Regions from separate parts of the Homo sapiens genome. Here region 1 is linked to region 2. The links come from fine-mapping of genetic effects on gene expression. A gene starts in region 2. The other region holds a variant in brackets. All regions are shown on one strand. Distances are between the middles of the regions.

Region 1 (5,366 bases), 24 kb after region 2:
TTGGGCTCCCCAGCTATTATTTCTCAGGCCTCTGTCCAATGCATAGCAAGGGCTCAGCCGAAACAACCGTATCTAGGAAACTTTCTGTCCGGGAGTATAGAGCCTATCCGTCCTCCAGAGACCCTAGAACTATCACTATGTCTAAAAAGGGAAAGCAGTAGAGAACTGGATCCCTGAACCACATCATATTGGCCCCAGTAGAGTTGCCTTTATGCATCTTGATCTGATTTACATCGTCAGCCTAGATTGAGAGCTGTTTTAAGAAGCAGCCTCATAAAATGAAACAGACCAGTGCTTTCCTGGACAGTCTTTTGACAGAATGCCTCAAGAAGGCCTACCTTTTGTCCCAGGAATTGTATTTCTAGGAATTCTGTATCTAGGCCTACCTTTTGTTCCAGGTACCTAGGCTTACCCTTTGTTCAAGGAATTCTGTGTCCTAAGGAATTGGGCGGTGATTTGCACAAAACGTTTTGTACAACAAAGTTAATTAGTTTCATTCTTTTTTTTTCAGAGATAGGGTCTTGCTTTGTCTCACTGGAATGCAGTGTTGCAATCATAGATGACTCTAATCTGAAACTCCTGGACTCAAGCAGTCCTCCCACATCAACTTCTCTAGTAGCTGCGACCACAGACATGCACCACCATGCCCGGCTAATTTTACAATTTTTTTGTAGAGATGGGGTCTCGGGTAGGGCGCGATCCCAACACCTTGGGAGGCTGAAGTGGGCGGATCACGAGGTCAAGAGATCGAGACCATCCTGGCCAACATGGTGAAACCCCGTCTCTACTAAAAATACAAAAATTAGCTGGGCGTGGTAGCACGCGCCTGTAGTCCCAGCTACTCGGGAGGGTGAGACAGGAGAATTGCTTGAACTTGGGAGGCAGAGGTTGCAGAGTGAGCCAAGATCTCATCACTGCACTCCAGCCTGGCGACAGAGTGAGACTCAGTCTCAAAAAAAAAAAAAAAAGAGATGGGGTCTCACTGTGTTTCCCAGGCTAGTCTCTAACTTTTGGCCTCAAGCTATCCTCTCACCTCAGCCTTCCAAAGCACTGGGATTACAAGCATGAGCCACTGTGCCCAGTCTACACTTTCTTTTTTTTTTTTTTCTTTTTGACAATGTCTCACTCTGTCACCCAAGCTGGAGTCCAGTGGCACAATCACAGCTCACCAAGTAGCTGGGACTACAGGTGTATGCCACCACACCCCACTAATGTTCTTATTTTTTGTAAAGACAGGGTCTCATTATATTGCCCAGGCTGGTCTTGAACTCCTTTACTAAAGCAATCCTCCCACCTCGGCCTCCCAAAGTGCTGGGATTACAGGCGTGAGCCACCATACCCGGCCTGGCCTCTAATTTTTAAATCACCAGTTTGTTGTTGTTGTTTGTTTGTTTGTTTTGTTTTTTTGAGACAGGGTCTCTCTCTGTCACCCAGGCTGGAGTGCAGTGGCACAATCTCGGCTCACTGCAACCTGTTTCCCAGGTTCAAGTGATCCTCCTGCCTCAACTTCCCAAGTAGCTGGGACCACAGGCACATGCCACCACGCCTGGCTAATTTTTGTTTTTAGTAGAGACAGGGTTTTACCATGTTGGCCAGGCTGGTCTCGAACTCCTGACTTCAAGTGATCCACCCTCCTCGGCCTCTCAAAGTGCTGGGATTATAGGCATGAGCCACTGCACCCGGCCTAAATCACCAGTTTTTAACCTTTCTGTACTGTTTGATTTTTTTACACCAATCATGCCTTATGAAAAACATTAAAGCTATTTTAAAAAGAAAACAGCCTTGTGAAACTCAGCCTCAGCCTGCTCTAACGACCTCTTTGAGGACCCGCTCTCTCCCACCCTTCTCCGTCTCTGGATTAAGCTGCCTAAATCTTTTTTTTTTTTGACAGATTTATTGAGATTTAATTAACACACAATACAATTCACTCATTTAAAGTGTGCAACTCAACAGTTTTTATTATATTCACAAAGTTATGCAACCATCACCACAATCAATTTTAGAATATTTTTATCACCCTGCCTCGTTTTAGAAACAAAAAACAGGCCAGGCACAGTGACTCACACCTGTAATTCCAGCACTTTGGGAGGCCGAGGTGGGTGGATTGTTTGAGGTCAGGAGTTTGAGACCAGCCTGACCAACATGGTGAAACCCCATCTCTATTAAAAATACAAAAATTAGCTGGATGTGGTTGTAGGCGACTGCAATTCCAGCTACTTGGGAGGCTGAGGCAGGAAAATAGCTTGAACCCGGGAGGCGGAGGTTGCAGTGAGCCGAGATTGCCCCACTGCTCTCCAGCCTGGGAGACAAAGCGAGACTCCGTCTCAAAAAAAAAAAAAAAAGAAACAAAAAATAATAAATATATTTAATATACATATGTGTGTTGTTGGGAGGATTGTATCCACTCCAAATGTCTAGCTATCATCACACAACTCAGACCCACCAAGAGAATTTTTAGGGATTTTAGTACCTGCCGTTTCCTTCTAACTCCTTCTCTCTACCCGCCCATCCCCCACAACATCCCCCTAAAAACAGACAGATTCCCTCCTAGCCTATCTGATGGGTCCTCATTTCCCTTGGACTGGGGTCAGGGAGGGAAGGTTCCAATCCTACAGGGTACAAGCACCAGGGCTGTTGGGGGAAGAGGATGTTTCTGCTCCTCAGGGAAAGAAGGTTTGAGAGCTGGGCACATGTCACTAGGGTCAAATGGTACCCAACCAGGAGCCCGATACCTGAATTCTCCCCCTAGCGTGGACATAAACCAGCTGGGTGACCATGGGCAAGTCACTCTGCTGTCCTGCTCATTATCCATAAAATCAAGAAGTTGGGCCAAGAAGTTCTGAATCATCTTCCAGTTTTAATATTCAGCAAGCCCTTCTGCTCTCTCTGCCTCTCAGCAAGCTCCTATTCACCCTTTTCTTTCTTTCTTTCTTTCTTTCTTTCTTTCTTTCTTTCTTTCTTTCTTTCTTTTTTTTTTTTGAGACTGAGTCTCGCTCTGTTACTCAGGCTGGAGTGCAGTGGCACGATCTCGGCTCACTGCAACCTCTGCCTCCCAGGTTCAAGCGATTCTTCTGCCTCAGCCTCCCAAGTAGCTGGGATTACAGGCTTGCGCCACCACACCCAGCTAATTTTTATATTTTTAGTGGAGATAGGATTTCACCATGTTGGCCTGGCTGGTCTCAAACTCCTGACCTCAAGTGATCTTCCCACTTTGGCCTCCCAAAGTGCTGGGATTACGGCGTGAGCCACCGCACCCAGCCTCCTATCCACCCTTCAAAGTCCAACT[C/T]GAAAGCTGTCCATTTGCCTGAGCCTCCCGGGGAGAGTGAAGCTCTCCCTTGCCCATCACCCCACGGCACCTTGCCCCTATGTCCGTCCATGCTCTTATCACTCACTTAATCTTCCAAAAAGACAAATTATGCACTGATTCTGTCCTAGATACTGTCCTGGGTCCTGGGGATATTCATGAGCAAAACATAAAAATCCCTGCCCTGCCAGGTGCGGTGGCTCACGCCTGTAATACCAGCATTTTGAGGCCAAGGTAGGAGGGTCGCTTGAGGCCAGGAGTTCAATACTAGCCTGGGCAATATAACAAGACCCTGTCTCTACAAAAAAAATTTAAGAATTTTAGCCCAGGTGTGGTGGCTTATGCCTGTAATCCCAGCATTTTGGGAGGCCTGAGATCAGGAGTTCAAGACCAGCCTGGCCGACATGGTGAGACCCCCTCTCTACTAAAAATACAAAAAATTAGCCGGGCGTGGTAGTGGGTGCCTGTAATCCCGGCATAAAAAAGATTTTAGAAGTTAAAAAAAAAAAAAAAAAAGTACCGGGCACGGTGGCTCACGCCTGTAATCCCAGCACTTTGGGAGGCCGAGGCGGGTGGATCACGAGGTCAGGAGATTGAGACCATCCTGGCTAACACGGTGAAACCCCGTCTCTACTAAAAATAAAAAAAAATTAGCCAGGCATGGTGGCGGGCGCCTGTAGTCTCAGCTACCTGGGAGGCTGAGGCAGGAGAATGGTTAGCGTGAACCTGGGAGGCGGAGGTTGCAGTGAGCCAAGATCGCGCCACTGCACTCCAGCCTGAGCAAAAAGAGCAAAACTCCGTCTCAAAAAAAAAACATTGTACTATTCCTGTAGTCCCAGCAACCGATATTATAGTCCCACGCCTATTCACAGGCATGATCATATACACTGTAGCCTTGAGTTCCTGGGCTCAAGGGATCCTATCCCAGGCAGCCGTATTGCACCACCTTTCTTTTTTTTTTAATAGAGATGAGGTCTCACTATGTTGCCCTGGGAGGCTGAGGGAGGAAGATCGTTGAGCCCAGGAGTTCAAGGCTGCAGCACATATGATCACACCTGTGAATACTCACTGCACCCCAGCCTGGGTCCCATCCCTTAAAAGAAAAAAAAAACTGCCCCATGAGCTCACAGTTAGTTGGGGGAGCTGAAAAAGATAAAGGAGTAACTTGCTTGGGAAATTAGATGGTGCTAAGTGCTAAGGAGAAAGATGAAGCGGGGGAGAGACTGCAGGGCAGGGAACAGTGTGACTTTGAATCAAGTGATTGGGGAAAGATCTAGAGAAGTTGACAGGCACAGACTTGAAGGAGAAGAGGGAACAAGTCCTGGAAGTATCAGGAAAGAATATTCCGTGCGTGAGGCTGGCTTCTGGGTTGTCCACACCACTCTCTGCTGTGTTGACTTCCTGTTGTCTTCATCAAAGCTTTTTTCCGTGGTATTCTAAAATTAGGCCAGCAGTGGGGCTGGGAGGGCATCTGTGTTAGTCCCTTCCTGGCTGTGATCCGCCACACTCACTGTCAGTATTAAGGCCCAGCAGCCTGTTGATAAGCTACGCTGTCTCACCATGCGCTGGTGTGGAAACAGGGCCCAGCCAGCATGCCTCAAGGTAGATGGAATCCCCACTGGTCAGAGAAGAAGCCATGCGGACACTCCAGCTTGGCCTGGGCACAGCACTGACTCCTCACCCGCTAGTCTGGCTGTTAAGAGGAGAAGGTGCACTGCCTTCCAGCCTAGGAGGAGGACAGCATTTTGTATTTGTTCCACTGATGCAGCTTAGAACCACACCCCTGAGAATCGTGGCAAAACTTTCACAACCTGGAAAATGTTGAAAGCAACCATTCCTATTTTTGTTTGTTTTTTATTACATCTTGCACACACACACACACACACACACACACAGACACACACAAAAAGAACATTCCAGGCAGAAATAACAGTGCAAAGGCTTAGCTCCTGGCTTACCTCTCCTCCCAGGCCTGGAGGCTCCCAGTGTCTTGGTTACATTGGGGTCACCTAGAGTAGATGCTCGGAACATGAATGGGCGTCCTCTGCCTTTGTTCTCATGC
Region 2 (5,366 bases):
CAGGCATGAGCCACCACACCCGGCCCAAAATCAGATATTCTTAACCCAGCTTTTCCAGGCCCCTGCTCGGACTAGACCCCCACTCAGACCTGGGGGAGCAGTTGTATCTTTTGACTCTCAGGGTGTGCAGGGGGAAGGTCCCCTAGTCCTCAAGCCTGCTAAGCCTGCTCTAGAGGACTGTGTCACCATGCATTCCCATGCACATACATGTATACACATGTAAATATGCACCCGCCAGGTTCATCTGGCCTGCAGCAGAGAATTCCAAACAGGCAGGATCTGGGAGAGGGTTCCAGGTCTGGGACTGTCTCCCTCCAGAGCCCCACCTACTATGAGGAAGCACCAGGAAACACAGCCAAAGCGGCTGGCTCTTAGGACCAGGGTCAGGCCTGACCCAGGACTGGACCATGGGGCAGGAAGAAAACAGGATGCAGGGCAGGAAGGCGAGGAAGGTGGAGCAGCAGGGATACAGGCCCAGGCCACAGGAAAAGGGGCTAGTTCTGCCTGTCTACTGCCCAAGCCACACCCTGTAAGAGCCTGGAACCACATATCATCCTATGGACAACTGGCCTGAATCTCCTTGGGGACTCCAAGTGGTAAGGTCAGTGATGATCATCTGGGTTCTGATCCTCACACCCAAGCTACCCAAGTCAGGTCACTTACACAGAGTCCAAGGCTTCAGCCTCTGAAGGCCTCTCCCCCCGGGCAGCCCAGGCCCCCGTCCGCCTACAGGACCCAGTGCTCTCCAGAAGGCTGGTCTGATCTCCAGCCTATCCAGGTTCTATTCCAAGCCTACTCAGCTGGGAAACAGAACAGCACCATCTCAAGTGGCCCATCATAGGGCTGTAGCCAGGGAAAGACAGAGGGACACAGTATTTTGGGGAAAAGGCCTGAGCAGGTAGGAATCTAGGCCACTCCAGAGCCTTTGGTACTCTGCTGAGCTGGCCCCACTGGCCTGGCAAAGGACCCCAGCTGCCGAGCCCACAGTGCAATCCTCCAACAAGGAGTTTCTTCCCCAGGCAGGTAAACATGGGAGCCTCCCTTCCTCCCTGCCTCCCCACTCCTCTCCCTGCAGCCCTACACTGAGGGGCTAGCCCACTTGCCACCTTCCCTGCCACCCACAGAACGAAAACCCCATCCTAAAAAAGCCAAGCTCCAGAACGACCCAGGAGCCGTAGGGAATGGAGAGAAGTGCGGTCTGGTTTCTATCAAGAGCCTTTCAGCCGGGGTTGGACTCTCCAGAGGCCCTGGGCATTTGCTGCACATTTGACCCTTCCAGGGTGGGGAAAGGGGTGAGGGAGCAAGGTCTGGCCCCTGGAGCTGTGACCAGCTGGCTGTGGGAGCTGGCTTCCTCCATCCCACTCTAACCTCCAGCAGCAAGAGAGAGCCCTGGAGAGCAGGAGGTGGGGGGGCCAGGAAAGAGGAAGATCCCAGATGGCAGCAGGTCCTGTGTCCCCTGAAAATGGGGGACATGGGGAGTCAGGGCCGAGCATCTCTGTGGCCACGGTGGCCTGATTCAAAAAGCCAGGAGAGAAGGGGTGGGCAGAGAAGCAGTCTTGCTGGGGCCAGGTGGTATAAGGAGGTGGCTATTGGGCCACTTGTGGACTCACAGGAGAGTTATGAGCATGGACTAGGCTGGAGGGTCCTTAGGCCCCTCACCAGCTGACTGAGGGCCATCCTGCGGGTCCCCATCCCTGAGCCAGAGAACAGAGCACACAGGCTAACAGCCTTTCCCTTGCAGGGCCTCGGGGAAGGCCCCTGGAGAGGTCCCCAGCTGGGAGGCTGTGCTCAGTAGGCCTGGGGACAGGGCCCCCCACCAGGCTGCCTCGCTGCCCGCCACTCTTTGCGTGTTCCCAGGAAGACCTGGGCCTTCCCTGCCCACGGGCATCGACCAGGGCCCAGCGAGGCCGCTGCCGCGCACACCAGCTGTTTCTCCGACCCGGGCGGACGCCAGCCAGGCTTTGTTTGCATTGAGTCAACAGGGACTGTGCGTCCGGGACCCGCGGGCAATGAGGGGCAGGGAGGGGAGCGGACGGTGGATGGGTGGGTGGGGGCGGCGGGAGGCTGGAGATGCGAAGCTGGGGACGCCGCGGGGCGGGACAGGGGGCGGACAGCTGTGTCGCCGGCTCGGGGAGTAGGCACACGTCAGCCTAAGGTGGCAGCAGCGGCTTCGGGGAGAGGGGTGTTCCCAGGAGAGGAGGCTGAGGGTGGGGGACTAGGGCCAGGGGATGGAGCTTCCAGGTACAGGCCGCGGGGTCCCGTTCCGGCGCTGGCCTTGGCGTTACGCTCGGGGCCCGCCCGTCCCCCCATCTCCCGACGAGCCAAGTTCGCGTACCCCCGGCCCTGCCCAGCCCCCAGCCCGGCAGGTGGATGGGGACGCCGGGGCCCCCGTGGCGCACCTGCGTCTTGGTGGTGAGCTGGATCACCGCCTTCCGGAAGTTCAGCTTGGAGTCGGTCGACCCCATGTCTCTGGAGCCCGCTCCGGCCCGGCCCCCGCCCAGACTCCAACCCGGCTCCGGCTTCAGCTCCGGCTCCAGCTCCGCGGCCCCCGCGGCTCTCGCAGGAGACAAGCGGCGCGCCCCGCCCCCGGCCCTCGTCGGCCCCGCCCCGACAGGCCCCGCCCCCGCGTGGCTCCGCCTCCTGCACCTGCAGCGCCCGCCGCCGAAGACCCGCGGAGTCGGCGGTTCCAACCCAGCGCCGCCGCACGCCGGGTGCCTTCTCAGGTCCCACCCGGAGCCTCGACGCTCTTCCTTCTGCGTCGGAGCATTGTACCCGCCTCCGCTGCTACCACGCAGTCCCCAGGGCCCAAAACCCTCCTCGCAGCTCGTCCCCCGCCCCGGTCCTCACCCTTCATCTCCGCTCCGGCTCCTGGCCCACGTCTCAGCTGGCCCTCTCCATCCCACTTTCCTCCTTCTCAGTCTGTCTTTCCCATTCATGTTTTCTGAGCATCCACTCTCTTGGTTCTCCCTTTTTCTGACCTGTCAAACCCACGTGTTCAGACAGTCCCGCAGGCCCTTGGTTATGAGGGAGGGAGGCGCTGACTCAGTTTCCATACTCCAGGAAAGCAGCTCCTCGCCTTGCTGAGCGCGAGAGTCCCTCGCGGTCCCGACCCCTCTCTAGCCACCAGATTCCCAGAGAATCCTTTGAGATTCATCCATTTCAACAAATGTGCTGAGGGTCTGGTATTTGCCAACTCTGTGTCATGGACGGACACAGCGGACATAAGTAGTACAGCCTGCTCTTTATGGCGAGCAGCTAGGGAGAGGGATAAGGAAAGAAGCGGCCAGGGTACAGCCAAATAAGCCTGTAATAGAGGCAGATTAATCATCAAAACAAGGCCGGGTGCGGTGGCTAACGCCTGTAATCCCAACACTTTGGGAGGCCGAGGCAGGCGGATCACGAGGTCAGGAGTTCGAGACCAGCCTGGCCAACATGGTGAAACCCCGTCTCTACTAAAAATACAAAAATTAGCTGGGCTTAGTGGCGCACGCCTGTAATCCCAGCTACTCTGGAGGCTGAAGTAGCAGAATTGCTTAAACCTGGGAGGCAAAGGTTGCAGTGAGCCGAGATCACGCCACTGCACTCCAGCCTGGGCGACAGAGCAAGACTCCATCTCGGGGGGGGGGGGGGAATCAAAACAAGACGACAATGACGATATCTCTAATAGCTACCTCTGAGGTATTATTTTATCCCCATTTTACACTTGGGGAAAATGAGGCTTAAAGCAATTACTTGCCCAAAGCCACACAGGTAGTAAGGAGCTCATCCAAATGAGGCTGCGCTTTTTCCACAACATCATTTTGCAAGCTATGTCTGGAAGCTTCTGGAAATCTTGGATGCTTTTTTATTTTTTATTTTTTGAGATGGAGTTTCGCTCTGTCGCCCACCCAGGCTGGAGTGCAGTGGCACAATCTCAGCTCACTGCAAACTCCACCTCCTGGGTTCAAGCAATTCTCTTGCCTCAGCCGCCCGAGTAGCTGGGTCTACAGGGGCCCGCCACCACCCCCAGCTAATTTTTTTTTGTTTTTAGTAGAGATAGAGTTTCACCATGTTGTCCAGGCTGGTCTTGAACTCCTGACCTCAAATGATCCGCCTGCCTCAGCCTCCCAAAGTGCTGGGATTACAGGTGTGAGCCACCATGCCCAGCCCTATTATTTATTTATTTATTCATTCATTCATTCATGCATGCATGCATGCATTTTGCAGACGAGGTTTCACTCTGTTGCCCATGCTGGAGTGCAGTGGTGCAATCATAGCTCATTGCAGCCTCGAATGCTGGGACTCAAGCAATCCTCCTGCCTCAGCCTGCTGAGTAGTTAGGACTACAGGTGCACACCACCATGCCCAGCTAATTTTTTTTTTCATTTTTTGTATAGACAGGATCTTGCTACATTGCCCAAGCTAATCCCCAACTCCTGGCCTCAAGGGATCCTCCCACCTCAGCCTCCCGAAGTGCTGGGATTACAGATGTAAGCCACCATGCCTGGCCCCTAGATGCTTCAAAAGGATGTGACATTCACTTAAAGAGGAATTCTACAGGTGAAAAATGAGGGGCACGCCATCTGGGAGCAAAAGTGTGGCAGGGTGGAGCGGGTGTGGAGGGAAAGAGGAGTGCGAAGGGTGTCGCCATTTCACGGAACAAACAAACTCCACAGGGCAATGATAGGGTAGCTCTAGCCTTTCTCCGGAGGTGGGTTTTCCCCGCCCTGGGCAAAATCCTTGGCAGGTTTCATGGCTTTTCTAATCATTCCAAGATAATGAATGAATAGTTCCTTTATTTGGCATTAAAAAAAATCCAGTCTATTCTACAAATCACTCAACCGCATTCCAGGCCAGAGTGACATTAAAAACTCTCAATCATAATCATTAGGGAAATGCAAATTGAAACCACAGTAAGATAACACTACATGGCTAGCACAATGACTTTCAAAAGCTGGCAACATGCTAACAGTTTATTTCTTTATTTATTTTTAGTTTTTTGAGACAGGGTCTCCCTCTGTCATTCAGACTGTGCAGTGGCATGATCACAGCTCATTGCACCCTCTACCTCCAAGGCTCAAGCAATCCTCCCACCTCAGCCTCCCAAGTAGCTGGCATTACAGGTGCACACCATGACGCCCGGCTAATTTTGTATTTTTTATACGGATGGGGTTTTGCCATGTGGCCCAGGCGGTCTCAAACTCCTGAGCTCAAGCGACCCTCCTGCCTGGGCCTCCCAAAGCATCGGGATTACAAGCAGGAGCCACCGTGCTCAGCCTTCAAAAAGAAGAAAAAATAATAAAGGCAAGTGAAGGTATGAAGAAGGAGGAGGAGAAGAAGGAGAAGAAAAGAATTGAGAACTCTTGCTAACCAGCCACTCCGGGTGA

The links. PIP is the estimated chance that this variant, and not a neighbour inherited with it, causes the effect. A credible set is the group of variants that fine-mapping cannot tell apart.
Region 1: its variant is the best candidate, but not a certain one, in a credible set for the expression of HID1 in lung (TOPMed, PIP 0.65).

Annotation. Positions count from the first base shown.
Region 1 is chr17:74,994,118-74,999,483 of GRCh38, forward strand. All of the region lies in intron 1 of CDR2L (cerebellar degeneration related protein 2 like), which reads left to right. Among named protein-coding and RNA genes, the nearest start is that of CDR2L, 9.2 kb to the left of the region's middle. RefSeq lists an enhancer at 1-356. The variant C/T (reference allele first, on the strand shown) is at 3,287.
Region 2 is chr17:74,970,192-74,975,557 of GRCh38, forward strand. HID1 (HID1 domain containing) reads right to left here and starts at 2,568. Exons shown (of 19, transcript NM_030630.3): 1 at 2,400-2,568. The coding sequence starts at 2,465. It overlaps HID1-AS1 (HID1 antisense RNA 1), which reads left to right and starts at 498. Exons shown (of 3, transcript NR_110878.1): 1 at 498-601; 2 at 4,377-4,539; 3 at 4,975-5,366. RefSeq lists a silencer at 2,523-2,632.